Linked DNA regions of Homo sapiens. The protein of the gene in region 1 purifies or fractionates together with the protein of each later gene. This does not show direct contact. Each region holds a gene or a part of one and is shown on either strand. Other genes may lie near its edges.

Region 1 (3,518 bases):
GTTAGAAAATACTCTAGAATTGGCTGGGTGTGGTGGCTCATGCCTATAATCCCAGCACTTTGGGAGGCTGAGGCAGGCAGATCACTTGAGCTCAGGAGTTCAAGACCAACCTGGCCAACTGGGTGAAACCCCGTCTCTACTAAAAATACAAAAAATTAGCTGGGTGTGGTGGCTCCTGCCTGTAGTCCCAGCTACTTGCTGAAGCAGAAGAATCGCTGGAACCCGGGAGGCGGAGGTTGCAGTGAGCAGAGATTGCGCCACTGTATTCCAGGCTGGATGACAAAGCAAGACTCTGTCTCAAAAAAACCCACAAAAACTCCAGAATTATTTTTGCTGTGGGTCAGATGTGGGGTCCTGCAGTAAGAGCTAGGTTTGAATGATGTCTACTAGCCATGTTCCTTGAGGAAGTGACTTCATTTCTCTTCTCTTGTGCCTCATTGAAGGGTTCCTATGAAGGTAGTGATATATCAGTTCCCAACTCAGAGGCTCACAAGAGGATTTAATGAGATAATGTATGGGAAATGATGAGCACAGTATCTGGCACTTAACAACCGGCAGCTGCTGTTATTCCAGAGCCAGGCACACAGCGGGCGTTCCACAGGAGCTTGCTGAATGAATGAATCACCCAAACCAACCTCCCTCACTCACATTTGTAAAAACTGAGGTCTTTGGAAATGAAGTAGCTTGGTCAACATGGCCAAATAGTGCTGAGATGCCAAGTTAAATGAGGTGGGACCTACGAGGGAACATCACGATGGGCAACTGGCCCCTGATGCCAATGTTCTTCTACTACCTGGGCTGCCACCAAGTGTCTCTGATGCCTAGGCCTAGGCTACCCTCAAGGTAACTCTATGGACCTCAAGCAGCCAGTCCCAACAGAGACCATTACTGTTTTGGAGTCGTCAGTTAAGGACAGACTCTTAAGACCTGGGGAAGGGAGCCAGAAATCTGAGAGGCAAGCTGTACCCAAGGGAAGGACAAAAGCTTATTTGTTTCTTCCTACCATGCTGAGAGAAAGAAAAGATAATGTGAGTGTTTCAAATAAGACAGGGTCCACACAGTGGGGCAACTCTCACATGGAAATGTGCTGACGTCATCTTTGAAAAGACTCTGAGTCTCGCCTGTCTTGGCCATGAAACGGGTAAGTGCCCGCTCCACATCGCGCCTCTGGGATGCAGCCTTCTCCCGCAGGACCTGGTAGTCTGACACGGGCTCACGGTACGTCTACGAAGAGAGCAGCAAAGACACTGGGGTGATGCCGAAGTATCATTCTGCTTTCATCAGCTCCCTGGCTTGCTGTTGCTATGCCCTGTTCTCTAAAATGACCCAATACCAGGCCAGGCACAGTGGCTCACACCTGTAATCCCAGCACTTTGGGAGGCCAAGGCTGGTGGATCACCTGAGATCAGGAGTTTGAGACCAGCCTGGCCAACATAACGAAACCCCGTCTCTACCAAAAATACAAAAATTAGCTGGGTGTGGTGGTGGGCACCAGTAATCCCAGCTACTTGGGAGGCTGAGGCAGGAGAATCGCTTGAACCCAGGAGGCGGAGGTTGCAGTGAGCCGAGACTGCATCATTGCACTCCAGCCTGTGCAGCAGGAGCGAGACTCTGTCTCAAAAAATAAATAAATAAATAAAATTAAATTAAATGACCCAATACTATTAGTTAGAGCCAAGATCACCAAAGCACAGTAGAAAGGTGGAAAAACAATGTAACTACATTAATATTCATTTCTAATTAAAAATTAAGAAATGTACAAATATTTACTGTAGAGATTGTCTTGGAGCCTTCATTCAGCTCCCATGACAGATGGTCTCGGGTCTAAGAGACGCATCGTGAAGAAAGAGTGGGAGTGCCCCCAGGGAAGCCCTGATGGGGACCACAGGTTCCATCAGCGCAATGTGACCTCCTGCAGTATGGGAGTGGCTGCCTATGTGGACTTGTGGATTATACCATCCCATCTTATTAAATCAATCCTCACAATATGGATACATTGTTCCAAAAAGATTCCCTCAAAGAAAGAGAGGCTGAAGATCTTATTATACGTGCAAGTGACCAAGAAAACGGCAGGCTGCTACTCTTCCTCCTAATTATGAGCTTGCTGGCAATCAAGTTATGGAGTGAAAATGATTGAGATCAGAATGAGAAATGAGCCAAAACTTTTTATTTTATTATTTTTATTTTTTGGAGACAGAGTCTTGCTCTGTCACCCAGGCTGGAGTGCAGTGGCGCCATCTCAGCTCACTGCAACCTCCACCTCCTGGGTTCAAGCGATTCTCCTGCCTCAGACTCCTGAGTAGCTGGGACTACAGGCACGTGCCACCATGCCCAGCTAATTTTTGTATTTTTAGTAGAGATGGGGTTTCATCATGTTGGCCAGGCTGGTCTCGAACTCCTGACCTCAGATGATCCACCCACCTTGGCCTCCCAAAGTGCTGGGATTACAGGTGTGAGTCACCGCGCCCAGCCGGAAAACATTTTAATTGGTAATGGCAACGGTGACATTTTAACAACGACCAATAAAGTAACTACTCTTCATGATACTGAGATACCATTTTTTTTTTTTTTTTTTTTTTGAGACAGAGTCTTGCTCTGTCACCCAGGCTGGAGTGCAGTGGCGGGATCTCTGCTCACTGCAAGCTCCGCCCCCCGGGTGCATGCCATTCTCCTGCCTCAGCCTCCCGAGTAGCTGGGACTACAGACGCCTGCCACCACTCCTGGCTAATTTTTTTGTATTTTTAGTAGAGACGGGTTTCACTGTGTTTGCCAGGATGGTCTCGATCTCCTGACCTTGTGATCCACCCGCCTCAGCCTCCCAAAGTGCTGGGATTACAGGCTGAGATAGCATTTTTAAAGAAGGCACCTGGAAATGTTTCTTTGTTGTCACCATCAGTTCAAGTGTGTCACCTATACAGTTCTCACATCTGTACTTAAACAAAGAAACAGAATTTTCTGACGTGTTAAAAATCTTCCCAAAAGGCTGGGTGTGGTGGCTCACACCTGTAATCCCAGCACTTTGGGAGGCCGAGGCGGATAGATTACCTGAGGTCAGGAGTTTGAGACTAGCCTGGTCAACATGGTAACACCCGGTCTCTACTAAAAATACAAAAATTAGCCAGGCGTGGTGGTGGGCACCTGTAATCCCAACTACTTGGGGGAGGCTGAGACATGAGAATCGCTTGAACCTGGGAGACAGAGGTTGAAGTGAGCCGAGATCACACCACTGCACTCCAGCCTGGGGGACTGAGCGAGACTCTGTCCACCCCCCACAAAAAAACCCCAAAACTTCCCAATAATAAAATGAGTGGATTTTGAACATATTGTACTTGTTAAAAACATTAAAATGCAAAATCTTGTAATGATTCCTAAGACAACTTTTGGCACTCAATAAATTAGAAATTTAATAGAAAATTTTCAACCAAATTCTTTGGATAATGAGTAAATGAGGATGAAAAAAATTAGTTTTATGATTTATTAAGAGCAGCCAATGATGTTACATATGTTTGTGATGTACC
Region 2 (3,518 bases), on another chromosome or scaffold:
TAATCCCAAAACTTTGGGAGGCAGAGGCAGGTGGGCCAGTTGAGGCCAGGAGTTTGAGACCAGCCTGGGCAACGTAGGAAGAGAGACCCCATCTCTACAAAAAATACAAAAATTAGCCCGGTGTGGTAGCGCATGCCTGTAGTCCCAGCTACTCAGGTGGCTGAGGTGGGAGGATTGCTTGGGTCCAGGAGGTCGAGGTTGCAGTGAGCCTTGATTGAGCCACTGCACTCCAGCCTGGGTGACAGAGCGAGACCTTGTCTGGAAAAAAAAGCTCATGTCACCATCCTATTATGTTATATGCCCTCTTTCAAAAAAATCTCTTTCATATATCCTCTCATCTTTGTGTAAAGAAAATGTTTTTCTAAGTATTATGTGATGCAATACCAATCAAATAAAATTGTTAATTCTGAAGATACAGTGATTTTTTTTTAAGATTGGCTGCTCCTTTTCCATTTCTGTGTTTTTTCACTGAGATATAATAGGGTTATTTAAGAGTATAAAGACATTTGCTATTGAATGTCATCAGTTAAATCTAGACTGTTTGACTATGTTTTCTAAATGGTGCCAGCACAAATGCCTATATGAGGTGCTTGGATGATTATTGAGTAAATACGAGTACTTCTGTTCTGGCTTTAGACTGGGGACTCCACTGTGAGACCACTTACACCAAGGATGGATTTTGGACATACATTACTCAGATTGCCACGTGTTCACCTTGGATGTTTTGGATGTTCCTGAACAGTGTTTTCCACTTCATGTGGGTGGCTGTATTACTCATGTGTCAGATGTACCAGGTATGTGCAAAGGCATTCTTTTTAGTGCACTAAGTGAAAACTCTTCCATCCTTGCATAAAAGATAATAATATATTCTCTTCCTAACCACTCCTGCTCTTCAAATATTCATTTTATTTTTCAATTTAGTTTTCCTTTCTACCTCACTCTTTTGCCCCTTCCTCTTCTCATATTGTGAACTTTTGAATTTTAGTACTTATCTCAACAGAAATTTTAATCTGTTATTCCTGACTTAAATACATCCAGTTGAGTATGTGTGAGCTCAGATTGATGATGACATTAATTTTGTGTTTTTAATGGTATTTTTATTCACAAATACTAATATTTATTCAAAAGCCTTTTTTTAATTTTTAAAAGCTCATTCTCAGAGAGGCTGATAGGGAGGTTGTCTGTGCAGGAATAGCGCCTGTCCATGCACAGTGTCAAGTAACCTGTCTTTAAATATTTTCCACATTTAACTGGCTACTTTTCACAGTCAAATGATACCACGTAAACTAGTTCTGATGATCTCCTGATGGAAAACCAAAAACAGACTTCATTGTTTTTATCTTTATCCTAGTTTTCTTCAAATTAATTTTTTTATATTAAGTATTTAGAAAGAATAATGGTTTGTGCAGCCTGGCATGGTGGCTCACACCTGTAATCCCAGCACTTGGAAGCCGAGGTGGGCGGATCACTTGAGCCCAGGAGTTTGAGATCAGCCTGGGCAACATGGTTAAACCCTATCTCTAAAAAAAAAAAAAAAAAAAAAAACCCAACAAAAAAAAGAAAATTAGCCGGGCATGGTGCATGCGCCTGTAATCCCAGCTGCTGGTGGGGTGGGGGTTTTGGGGTGGGGGGAGGTGGCGGGGGTGGAATCACTTGAGCCCACCCAAGAGGGAGCTGAGAATTCGCCATTGCATTTTAGCCTGGGTGACAGGGCAAGGTCCTGTCTCAAAAAAAAAAAAAAAAAACAAGAATAATGGTTTGCTTTTTCTTTCCTCTTAGATATCATGTTTAGGTATTACTACAAATGAAAGAATGAATGCCAGGAGATACAAGCACTTTAAAGTCACAACAACGTCTATTGAAAGCCCATTCAAGTATGTACATATTTATAAATTTAATATTTTACCTGGTCATAAAAATTTTCTTACTAACCAGACTCTTTTACTTAGTGATATGTAAAATAGCTTTTAAACCTTTTTAAGATTTCTGTAGAAATAGCATCAGTTCACCATAATAACAACAAAACAGAATTCATCACATTAACTGTATATAATAAAGTTGTGATATCTCCTTATATTTTTTTCTTTTTAATTTTAAATTTGTATTCAGTCTGGTGCTTAGAAATAGTAGGGTCCTAAGTATATGAAATATTTAAAACTTTGAGTTTTACTGAAGTTATTACCAACTCTTCAGCTTTTGTGGTGCTGTCAATTATGGCATACTTCTGGAAAGCAAGCAGACCTTTAAATAAAAACAGAGTTAGTTGGGTAGTTTTGAGAATTCTCCCATAGGTACAAAAATTATATAAGGCACAAAACTGACTGCTTTTCTTTTCTTTTTTTTAGACAGAGTCTTGCTCTGTCACCCAGGCTGGAGTGCAGTGGCATGATCTCGGCTCACTGCTACCTCCACCTCCTGGGTTTAAGCACTTCTCTGCCTCAGCCTCCTGAGTAGCTGGGATTACAGGCATGCACCACGCCCAGCTAGTTTTTGTATTTTTAGTAGAGATGGGGTTTCACCATCTTGGCCAGGCTGGTCCTGAACTCCTGACCTCATGATCCACCCGCCTCGGCCTCCCAAAGTGCTAGGATTACTTACCGACGTGAACCACTGGTGCGCACCTGGCCAAAACTGACTGCTTTTCTAAAGGTGTTACTGGAGTACTAAAATTTCATGAACTTATCCTTGACATTTCTTTTTTAAGTTGTTATCCTTAGGTTCACTGCCAGATTCATGCTATTTATAATTATTTTGTCTTTTACTTTTTTTCTGTTTTAGAGATAGTTTGTCTCCTGCCAAAGAGCCACTAATTAAAGGTTTTTATCAAAAATTACATATGGAGCCAGGCATGTTGGTGCATGTCTGTAGTCCTAGCTACTTGGGAGGCTGAGGTGAGAGGATTGCTTGAGCCCAGAGTTCGAGGCCAGGCCGGGCAACATAGTTAAGACCTCATCTCTAAAAATAAAAATAAAAATGCATATAACACAGAAAGTATATGCACATTTGAATAAATTTAAAATATAATTGTGTAAGTCTTTAAATTGGCAAAAGAAAAAATCATTGTTGGCAGAGCAGTGGAGAAACATGAAGGCATATATATTTTATAGAGTTATGAATTGGTTCCTTCTTGCAAGTAACCTGAGTTTTTAAGTTTAGAAAAAAATATATTTAACACGAAAATTATATTGAATTCATGTATTAAATCATTTGTACTGACTGACGTGTTTTCTTTTTGGGGTGCTGTTTTTAGCCATGGATGTGTAAGAAATATTATAGACTTCTTTGAATTTCGATGCTGTGGCCTCTTTCGTCCTGTTATCGTGGACTGGACCAGGCAGTATACAATAGAATATGACCAAATATCAGGATCTGGGTACCAGCTGGTGTAGCGACATCTTATCCTATGAAGCATATTGCTGAGTGGTGCCTGAAAATTGTGTCTGTCCGTGTCTTTCTCACACTCGAATCCACATCCTTTGAACAAGAGCATGCTATGTGTAGGGCTAATGGTGAATTTT
Region 3 (4,225 bases), on another chromosome or scaffold:
ATCCATCCCATCCGCTGACGGAAGTTCATCATTCTCCATGCTCTGTGCCTTCAAATTAAAAAAGAAAATACAATTAGGGTCTAGTAATGCTGTCACGGCAACTACTCCAAATGTACTTGCTTTATCTCCAAGAATTCTAGGCCGGGCGCGGTGGCTCGCGCCTGTAATCCCAGCACTTTGGGAGGCTGAGGCGGGTGGATCACGAGGTCAGGTGATAGAGACCATCCTGGCTAACATGGTGAAATCCCGTCTCTACTAAAAATACAAAAAAAATAGCCGGGCGTGGTGGCGGGCACCTGTAGTCCCAGCTACTCGGGAGGCTGAGGCAGGAGAATGGCGTGAACCCAGGAGGCAGAGCTTGCAGAGAGCCGAGATCACGCCACTGCACTCCAGCCTGGGCGACAGAGCGAGACTCTGTCTAATTAAAAAAAAAAAAAAAGAATTCTAAAATATCCCACTAACACACTTAAGATTTAAAATAATTAAATTAAACACCTATTAAGAAATGTAAAACTTACAGGTTGTTTTGTGTAATACTTACAATCAAGTAAAACAACACACACAAAAAAACAAAAAACCATTGATTTCAGTATATACTGAGTTCTGCTTTTTAACGGGAATCCCTCAGAATAAATCACTGCATCCTACTTAAACAGGTCCATAATACCCGCCCTCCAGAAACTGGAATTAAACTAGTTTCTCACAGCACATTTCACTTTGACAGGTGAAACACTTTCTGGCATAACAGTACTGCTTCAGACGTGAACGCGGGGTGCTACAAGTCAAGCCCCCAAGTTAAGACAGTAACTCCTAAGCACTTACAATGGTCCCGAAAATCTTCCTGTTCCCACGGCAAGCGTTAAAGAGTCACTCAGCTCTGAATAATCGGGTGGCTTTGGCATTTCAGAGAAAGCCAACATAAAATAAATCCCCTGGGTCACCCGGCTAGGAGAAAGGTGAGCGCCGCCAGCCTGGAGCACCAGCTACTAGTGATTAAGAACGGCGTGACTGCGGCGGGTCACGCGCGGCCCGGCCCCCGTCGCCGCCGCCGGAGACCCGCTCTGAGAACCTGACCCGGCAGGGAGGCGTCCCCGCCACTTGGGCCTCCGGGCGGCCGGCCCCGCCCCCTGCCGCGCTGCAGCGCCGGCACGCCGCGACCAAGGCTGCGCAGGCGGCGCCAGGCCCGGGCCTCGCCGCCTTGCAGCGCCGCGAGCCCAGCGCCCGTCAGCGGTCGCCGGCGGAGCCTGCTTGCAAAGCTGAGGTCCCGGATCTCACCTTCCTGTCCCGTGGTGGCCAGCCCGCCCGCCGTCCCGGATGCCGCCGCAGTCGGAGCTTCCGGCTCGGGCCGGAAGCGCGCGCGCCCCGCCCCCGAGGCCCGCCCCTCATGACGTCAGATCGCCCCCGCCCGCCGCGCAGCTTCCCCGAGCGAGACCAAAACAGGTGGAATCCGGGCTGGAGCCGGAGCTCCGGCGGCGCGGGTGGCGGCACGTCCCTCCAGGTGGGTGGCTCTCTGGGTCTGGCGACTCAGCGCTCCTCAGCCTTGCCCCCTGGTGCCCGCTCGCGACTGTCATCGCCCCATCACTTCTCGTTGCAGACAGTACCACAGGCACCTGGAGTACCGGCATCGGTCGCTGTGGCCCCCGAGTGTCCGTCAGAGCCTAGGGGAGCCTGCCCTCCCGCGCCTCGTCGGGGCCCGGCCAGGCACCTTGGCCGCCGGCGCACGGACGCGGGCACGAGCACTAGATCACGGTGAGTGGAAGCGGGCCCGACGCGGCCCTGCAGGCCCGACATCCGCCAGGCACCAGGGCTGGGAGGGGTGAGGGGCGCGCGCCGCAGTGCGGCTGCCCTGGCGTCGCCGCTGGGGGCAGGGCGCGCGGGGCTTGGGGCCTGCACGCTTGCCCTGGACGTTGGCACCTTTAGCTAACCTGTCTGCTCTGTCTTGCAGGCTGCTGGACCTCGGCACGTTGACAAGATTTCTCTGGGGTACCGCGGAGGATTACTTTGAATTTCGGTGGTCGCCTGTGGTCTGGCATATTTAGAACTTAAGTCTATTATTTCGGGCACCATGACTTTGAGGCTTTTAGAAGACTGGTGCAGGGGGATGGACATGAACCCTCGGAAAGCGCTATTGATTGCCGGCATCTCCCAGAGCTGCAGTGTGGCAGAAATCGAGGAGGCTCTGCAGGCTGGTTTAGCTCCCTTGGGGGAGTACAGACTGCTTGGAAGGATGTTCAGGAGGGATGAGAACAGGAAAGTAGCCTTAGTAGGGCTTACTGCGGAGACTAGTCACGCCCTGGTCCCTAAGGAGATACCGGGAAAAGGGGGTATCTGGAGAGTGATCTTTAAGCCCCCTGACCCAGATAATACATTTTTAAGCAGATTAAATGAATTTTTAGCGGGAGAGGGCATGACAGTGGGTGAGTTGAGCAGAGCTCTTGGACATGAAAATGGCTCCTTAGACCCAGAGCAGGGCATGATCCCGGAAATGTGGGCCCCTATGTTGGCACAGGCATTAGAGGCTCTTCAGCCTGCCCTGCAATGCTTGAAGTATAAAAAGCTGAGAGTGTTCTCGGGCAGGGAGTCTCCAGAACCAGGAGAAGAAGAATTTGGACGCTGGATGTTTCATACTACTCAGATGATAAAGGCGTGGCAGGTGCCAGATGTAGAGAAGAGAAGGCGATTGCTAGAGAGCCTTCGAGGCCCAGCACTTGATGTTATTCGTGTCCTCAAGATAAACAATCCTTTAATTACTGTCGATGAATGTCTGCAGGCTCTTGAGGAGGTATTTGGGGTTACAGATAATCCTAGGGAGTTGCAGGTCAAATATCTAACCACTTACCAGAAGGATGAGGAAAAGTTGTCGGCTTATGTACTAAGGCTGGAGCCTTTGTTACAGAAGCTGGTACAGAGAGGAGCAATTGAGAGAGATGCTGTGAATCAGGCCCGCCTAGACCAAGTCATTGCTGGGGCAGTCCACAAAACAATTCGCAGAGAGCTTAATCTGCCAGAGGATGGCCCAGCCCCTGGTTTCTTGCAGTTATTGGTACTAATAAAGGATTATGAGGCAGCTGAGGAGGAGGAGGCCCTTCTCCAGGCAATATTGGAAGGTAATTTCACCTGAGTCTCAGGGAACCACGAAGGGATATGGCAATGAGTAGAGCATGAAGGTAGAACAGTCTATATACTCTTGTGACACATACAATCCCTACCTTGTGCTGCCAAGTAACTCATTTTTGTGCAATTCTCAGTATAAGCCCTTTGTCGTTTCTGTGCCTATTTAAAGTCTCCTAAAGGTGTAATTGACTAGGAAGGATGTAGTTCTACACTGCCATTTACCTATTTAAATTCATCCTTGTGAATATCTTTGTTGTTGTTGTTGAGACAGAGTCTCGCTCTGTCACCCAGGCTGGAGTGCAGTGGCGTGATCTTGGCTCACTGCATCCTCCGCCTTCCAGGTTTAAGCTATTCTCCTGCCTCAGTTGCCCGAGTAGCTGGGACTACAGGCATGTGCCACCACGCCCAGCTAAGTTTTGCATTATCAGTAGAGACGGGGTTTCACCATGTTGGCCAGGCTAGTTTCGAACTCCTGACCTCAAGTGATCCACCTGCTTCGGCCTCTGAAAGTGCTGGGATTACAGGCGTGAGACACTGCGCCCAGCCTCATCCCTGTGAATTTCTTATTGTACACAAGTTCTTTCACTATCTGTGTGCAGTGCTCTGAGGGGACAGACAAGGCTTGGGTGTATATGCCAACCAGATCTCATTGAAGTATCAGCTTGTTTGGTACTAGGTGCAAGTGTAGCATGTCACATGTGACCATGTTGGATCATTGACAATTTTTAGGTATGTACTGACCTACATTTATGATGAAGATCCTGAGCGGAGGTTAAGATATTAAGTTATTTTCCATATGAATCAGAATTATATTGATTCTGTGCAATCAAAACAAAAGGCAGAATAGAATGCTGAGATTGGTTAAGTTTGCAATGACCATCTTGAACCACAGATTTCTGCTATGTGTCATCAAAACATCTAGTTCTGAGTAACATTTTCACGATTGTTATAAAATTATAGGTGTGAACTTCTAAAATAAAGGAATGCTAATAAAATGACTTTGTCTGTTTTGTTTATATCACGGTTCCAAGAGAGATTTCATTTGAATAAAGAGTTCCCAAAGCATGAATCTGCAAACCACTGAACCTACACAGACTTAGTTCCTTGGACT
Region 4 (3,518 bases), on another chromosome or scaffold:
AAGCAAGTGATTTTCTGATATATAACCATTAAACAAATCTTACTGGTCTTTGGCCATCAGAATTACTGGGCTTTGTTCATCTCCCTTGAATCCTAAAAAATGAAAACACTGATAAGCTCAAATTTTTATTAACCTTGGAACAAATGCAATAATTCCTTACAGTCATATAGCATTTTACAATTCTGAAAGAATTTTCACATATACCAATTGAACCCTCACAACAGCCCTGTGAGGTAGGCAGGGTAGGTGTTACTTTCCTACTGCTAGTGAGGAGAACAAGGCTAAGAGGTGAAGTAAGGTCACACAGTTGGTAAATGATGGAGCTAGGACTAGAACCTAGGCCTTCTGACTTGCTGCCTCCCTGAGAACATTCAAGTAATAATATCCTATGCTATATAATGAATATTTATCTCCTATGATGTTGATCAGGTCTATTTTTATACATTTTACCTGTTTTTATATTACCTTTCCCTAATACTGAAAAACACTAAAACTGATACGAGACATTTGAGACATTTCTTCTCTGTTACTGGACTTTCTTAGATATATCAAACACTATCCTAAGATGAAACTTCTGTTTTGAGGATCCTTGGCTATAAATTCTCAATTATGATACGAACATTTATTTTACAAATTCTACAAAAGTATGTTGAACTTAAGAAAAACAAAACAGGTGTGTTTATATTCTCAAAAGCTTTGCCATCTTTCCCAATATGACTTTAATATGTGTATAAATGGAAAACAGGGAAAGGTGTTCAGCAACATTACAGTATTATTGGGAAACCTATGCAGAGTGCACATAAATGCAAGTTACATCACATTAATTTGTTTTCTTTGTTGGCCTTATAGAGGATGAACCATTAGTGTCTTTCAGGTTTGATCCTGTCTTATATGTGACATCCTCAGCAACAAGCTAAAATGATCTGAATTATACCAATAGCGGGGCTCAAGCAGCAGTGATCAAAACATAATATGTATGTGGTAAAAAGGAACACTTGTTCTTCAGTGGTTTTGCCTAGGTCCAGTGTAATTACTTATCAAAACATGTTTTAAGCTACAGCATCTCTGTTAAATTTAGAAATGTGAAACATGGAAGAGTTATCAACTTGGAATACAATACTAAAACTGAATATAACTGACCCAAAACTACCTGTCAAAAGCACAGTAAAGCTTAACAGGCATAAAAACTAAGGGGTAAAACCCAACTGCTCTGACATAAGAGTGAAAAACAGCAAATGCAAACCATCAGGTTAAAGTGAATCACAAAACATTAGGCATGTAGAGCATGTTTTAAAAATAGGAAAATGACACTGAGCTGTATTACCAGGAATAATATTTTTAAAATTCCAGGTATGGCCTTCTACATTTAATAGCAATGGAGAGAAACAAGCCTATGGGGGAGGTGCAGAAAATGAATGGGATCTAGAAAGGGAGTTGAGTTTGGAAGTTAAGGAAGTCAAAGAAACAAATACATCCAAAATGGATTTAGAATCTCTCCTCTAAATCCATCCTTTCCAAAAAATGTTTCCTATATTGAGAGATTTGGTAAAAAAAAAAAAATTAGCTAGTGACAGTAAGTAACTATATTACCTTATAAAATAAAGTAGTATTTAAATGTAGATCAGAAATTATGCTGTCAAAGATAAATCTGCTGACTAGGCTGTAGAATCTGAAACTTAAATGCTACTATCAGTGATAGAAGGCAGAAAAGTGTCTCAAAAACAGAATTGCCATATTAGGACTCAACATTAATGAAACTATTAAGAAACAAGTACTTAACTGTTTGTAATTGAAGCCTACTGAAAAACACATTTGTATGTTTACTAAAGAGATCTAACAGTTTTAACTGACGAAAAATACTGCAGCTACATTTCAGTCTTTTAAGGTAAAACAAGATCTAGAATATTCTAGTTCAGTATACTGGGCTCAAAACCAACTTTCCTTTTGAAATGCATCTAGACTAGACTATATTCCTTACATAATATCATTGTCATCATCATCTTCATGTTTTCTCTTCAGTGGGTTTGCTTCATTGGCTGTGTTCTGTGACGAAACCATGTTGGTGGTAATAAGAATATTTTTGGGCCCAATCATTGAAGGATTAATCAGAACATTTTGAACTGCAGTTGTTGCAGGAACTGTAAACAGAGAAGAAAGCCCCCCCAAAACCAAGCTATGAATTACCCAGAATCTGAAACATATGATAAAAAGTATACAACAAAGCTGAATGTAATTCTAATACCAATTTCAATAGCATGAAGTGCAACTATATCATAGAAGAAACATAGGTACTTATACTGCAATGAGTTGAATTAAATTTTAAAAAATCTTTATTTTTAATTGGCAAATAATAATTGTGTATTTATTTTTAAATTACTATTTTTTTGAGACAGTGTCTCGCTCTGTCGTCCAAGCTGGCGTGATCTTGGCTCACTGCAACCTCCGCCTCCTGAGTTCAAGTGATTCTCGTGCCTCAGGTTCCCAAGTAGCCGGGATTATAGGCGTGTACCACCAAACCTGGCTAATTTTTGTATTTTCAGTAGAGACGGGGTTTCACCACGTTGGCCAGGCTGGTCTCGAACTCCTGGCCTCAAGTGATCCTCCCGCCTCGGTCTCCCAAAGTGCTGGGATTACAGGTGTGAGCCATTGTACCCTGCCAATAATTGTGTATATGTACGGGATATAATGTGATGTTCTGATCTATGTATAGATAAAGATTAAACATATCTAGTACAAGGTTGAAGAAGTTCTGTTGTATTTTAACAACCTAGAATTTCAATTTAGTCATGGGAAACTGCACTGGATTCATCATGCAACATATTAAACAAAGGCCTATGTTCAAGGTCAGGAATCACTTCCCTAATAGGCCAGTATTTTACGTTAGTTGCTTATTGTGTGTGGTTAGGTTTCAGAAGATATGAAATCTAGACATACACATTAGTAAACTGTGCTATGACAGAATTCTTATTCCAATCTGTGTGTGTGTGTGTGTGTGTGTGTGTGTGTGTGTGTGTATCCTATGAAGTAAAGGTACAATTTCATTTGAATTTACATTTATGTTCTGGATTGCATACACATATTCATCACTAAGTTTTGTCGCTTTCTTGAGCTTTTACCTTAACTGCTTTTCCTTGAAGACGACTTAGATTTGTGGACCCTAACTGTTTAGCTGACGGTGTTCTTTGAAAATCTGATGAACACACTGAATACTCTTTCCCTCCTCCCCAAAACGTTACATATATAGTAGTCCCCCCTTATCTGCAGTTTCAGCTACTTGTGGTCAACTGCGATCCAAAAATAGATGAGTACAGTACAGTAAGATACTTTGAGAGATCACACTCACATATATTTTATTACAGTATGTTGTTGTAATTGTTAATTAATTATTGTTAATTTCTTGCCGTGCCTAATTTATAAATTAAACCTTATAATTTAGAAAGTTTATAAATTTAACTTTAAAGGTTGTAAATTTAACTGGGGGTCTTGGAACAATCCCTCAAGGATAAGGGGGGAGACTA
Region 5 (3,126 bases), on another chromosome or scaffold:
TTTTTCCCCTAGAATATAGTACTCCCTTTTACTCTAAAAAATATCCCAGTTTGGACAATAAAATACATAATTACTCTAGTTATATTATTTGCTTTACTTCTAAAAATGTAAGAAATTGAATTTTTTTAAAGAAAAATGTTGGTTCCTGCCTTGATCTAAGTCTCATCCAAAGGAAATAAATAGTCACTAGTTTTTTATCTTACAACTCAGGACATTTGTCTTTGGTTATTAATGGAAATTAGTATGTGATTACTTTCATAGTTATGCCACAAATCACATTGAAGAAGGAATCATTCCGACCTCTGTTCCAGGACAAGAGCTAGAACAATCCATTTCTTGTCCTTTGATTTGAGAGTCACAGTCAGGGTGGCTTCTGCCACCCTTAGTAACTCAGAGCAGAGGCCAGCCCCCTCCTTCCCTCACTTTCTTTTGCTGAGTCCTTTGCCCACCTGTCAAGGTGGCAGGCACTGTGCTGGGTACAGGAGGACAGTCAGACATGTCCCTTCTTAGCTATAGTCGAGCTGTCTGGGAAACAGGATGAAAAACAGGAGGGTTATTTTCTTGTGCCCTCTTTGTCAGCTGATCCCCTCTTCTGCTACCAGCTATTTGGCCAGCAAGCCGTTTTTAGTCCCCACTTTGCCCATTTTTCTGTTTTGGTTCATCGTTTCTTAAAAGCCATGTTATAAAACATGGTAGTTTGAATCCTGTTGCTAATTTTAAACTTTCCTCTAAAATGTACTGAATTTTGACAAAAATTTGAAAATATCCTCAGCTAACTAGAATAAAAAGGATCATAAAACAATGATTTTAAAACTGAAATCTCTAGAAACTCAACATCCAAGTCAGCCGCATTTCTTCATTCAGAGTGTGTGTGTCACACCTGCCAAGGTGCTGCGTACTCTGCTAACCGAGCTAGAGTAGTGAGCAAAGCCATTTTCTCTGATCACAAGATTTTACATTTTTCTGGGATTTTGACCTGCAAAGTAGTCTCGTAAGAGCATTTGAGAGACTTACTTGGAACTGCCTTCAGAATCTATAGAGCCTTTTTTCTCTTTTTCCTCTAAAATGAAAAGAGCTTCATTTTATGATTATAACAAAAGTGACACTGTAAGCAGTTAGAACATTAAGAAGTATAAATAAAAAGTAAAAATCATCTACAACCCTACCATACTCAGAAGGAGAAAAGAACTGTCATGTATGTATACACACATACCTATGTAATTTTAATATAAATAGAATTATGTTCTACATGCTGTTTTATTTCCTCAACAGTAAATTATGGACATGTCTGAAATGTGAAATAAATTTCAAAATAAGGCTTCAGAAAGTGTAGTAAGTAATCTCTGCATTATTAAAAATAAGCAGGGTAGGGCTGGTACTTGGCTCGCTTAGCATTTGAATGTCCAACTTGGTGTTATCACTGTATCTTCCCTCCATTTGTCTTTGTGATTAGCATGTAAAATGGTATTCATAAAGATCACAACCCTTGAATATCAGATGAAGAGAAAACTTGACTCCAACATCTTACCACAACTCTGGTTTCTTCCTGCAGAATTCATTTTCAGAGGAAAATGATGAATCATCCCTGTCTGTGAACCACTGTGCTTTCCTTGAGGGTGGCATTGTAGGTTGACACCAGCAAAGACTCAGAGTGACTTGAGCATTGGAGATCCTTCTACTTGGCTGCTGTATTCATGCATTATGTTGGTTTGAGAATAGCTAGTGTATTGATCCAAGTAGTCAAAGTGTCTTAAAAGGACACCTATTTGTCCTTTTGAGCCCCAGCTGAGTGAATACTGATAGTGGACTAGAAAAGCATAGTCAAGAAAAGTGACCCACCTTGTTACTTGACCAGCAGTCTAGCTGAGAGATCTGATTTTATGTTCGTAACTTTCTGTAAAGAAAGACACAAGGACTTTTCAAAGACAGTTTATATCTTTCCAAGGCAGGAAGCTTTGCATTTGCAATCTTAGTGTTGTGTCCCTTTCTGATTTTCAAATACATCACACCTGCCTTCCTGTTTTGGGAGCAAAGATGTAATTTCAATTCCCCTTGCTACCGTCCTTATTTAAATTATTTCCATTCTAAGAGATTTTTGTTATTTTTTTAAATGTAATCTGAGCACTTTTTTGTATTCTAAAAGATAGATGATATCAGATAAATATGTTGTACATTTGATTAAAATTATTTAGATAAATATTACTATGTTGACTTTTAAATAGCTTTATCCTATTTTTCATTCATTTTGCAAATATTTGTTGTGTGTAGTTTCTTAACGTGTCAGAATCTATTATGTAAAAGAACCTTTCCAGATTTCTGAACAGTATATGCTTTGATTTTATAGGCTTTATATTATTTCAGTATGAATAAAGATAAGGAATATGAAACAGTTAACTAAAATGTATCTGTCGTTGCTAACTTGAAAAATGAAGTAGAAACAGTTGGAAAATGTTTGAATTAGAAGTTATTCAAGTGCACACTCTTTTCTAAAAGAAAGCCAATGACTATAAGGCAAAAGAAGTTTGACTGCATGTGGTATTTTTTGCTCTTGTATATGCTTTTTGAACAAGCTATTTGATAAAGCCTGAATGGAAAAAATAAAGCTGTTTCTATCTGCAGTGGCTCTTGGTGGTCATTACTTAAAAGACATATGTTTTCATCTTTAAATTCCTGAACACATTTCACCTGCTGTGAATATGTAGAAAACAGAGGTAAAACATTGGCTATATGAGTCATAAAATTTAATTTTCACTAAATGGAGTTCCAGACCATGTGGTTATCTAAATCAAAGTACGGTGGATTCCTTTCTCAGAGAGTAAAGTAAATCCCATTTTAAGCCAGAAGTCTGGATTTTCACAAGATAAATTAGGGAATAGACTTTTATAACCCAAAGGGATTCAAAATAGGACTTTATCAAATTCAAATATAATTTATCTTAGAACGTTTACAGAGAAATTTTAAAAAATATAAAGTGTGCTTTAATTGTTCATAATAGTCTGTGGTATATTTATGCAATACATTTACTAGTGTTTTATCTCTTTACAGTAAAGAGGGTCCTGGTAGGTTGGTGATAAAATGAATCCTATTTCCAAGTGATTTAAATATTAGTTACAATTCCCACTGTCA

What was found.
Region 2: the proteins of TAF8 (region 1) and ZDHHC17 purify together in Homo sapiens (affinity purification with mass spectrometry; 3 studies listed by BioGRID and IntAct, with this or other methods). This does not show direct contact.
Region 3: the proteins of TAF8 (region 1) and MOAP1 purify together in Homo sapiens (co-immunoprecipitation; one large-scale study listed by IntAct). This does not show direct contact.
Region 4: the proteins of TAF8 (region 1) and TAF9B purify together in Homo sapiens (affinity purification with mass spectrometry; 4 studies listed by BioGRID and IntAct, with this or other methods). This does not show direct contact.
Region 5: the proteins of TAF8 (region 1) and ATE1 purify together in Homo sapiens (co-immunoprecipitation; one large-scale study listed by IntAct). This does not show direct contact.

Annotation. Positions count from the first base shown.
Region 1 is NC_000006.12:42,064,018-42,067,535, reverse strand, and holds part of TAF8 (transcription initiation factor TFIID subunit 8), read right to left. Parts: intron 1,225-3,518; coding exon 1,077-1,224; intron 1-1,076. UniProt on the Homo sapiens protein: The TFIID basal transcription factor complex plays a major role in the initiation of RNA polymerase II (Pol II)-dependent transcription.
Region 2 is NC_000012.12:76,847,597-76,851,114, forward strand, and holds part of ZDHHC17 (palmitoyltransferase ZDHHC17), read left to right. Parts: intron 1-636; coding exon 637-794; intron 795-1,779; coding exon 1,780-1,874; intron 1,875-3,250; coding exon 3,251-3,389; 3' UTR 3,390-3,518. UniProt on the Homo sapiens protein: Palmitoyltransferase that catalyzes the addition of palmitate onto various protein substrates and is involved in a variety of cellular processes.
Region 3 is NC_000014.9:93,182,083-93,186,307, reverse strand, and holds MOAP1 (modulator of apoptosis 1), read left to right. Parts: upstream 1-1,410; 5' UTR 1,411-1,498; intron 1,499-1,594; 5' UTR 1,595-1,749; intron 1,750-1,945; 5' UTR 1,946-2,065; coding exon 2,066-3,121; 3' UTR 3,122-4,109; downstream 4,110-4,225. Other genes in the region: LYSET (lysosomal enzyme trafficking factor), read right to left, coding at 1-48, 823-902.
Region 4 is NC_000023.11:78,129,636-78,133,153, forward strand, and holds the end of TAF9B (transcription initiation factor TFIID subunit 9B), read right to left. Parts: intron 2,139-3,518; coding exon 1,975-2,138; 3' UTR 113-1,974; downstream 1-112. UniProt on the Homo sapiens protein: Essential for cell viability. TAF9 and TAF9B are involved in transcriptional activation as well as repression of distinct but overlapping sets of genes. May have a role in gene regulation associated with apoptosis.
Region 5 is NC_000010.11:121,739,916-121,743,041, reverse strand, and holds the end of ATE1 (arginyl-tRNA--protein transferase 1), read left to right. Parts: 3' UTR 1-2,618; downstream 2,619-3,126. UniProt on the Homo sapiens protein: Involved in the post-translational conjugation of arginine to the N-terminal aspartate or glutamate of a protein. This arginylation is required for degradation of the protein via the ubiquitin pathway. Does not arginylate cysteine residues.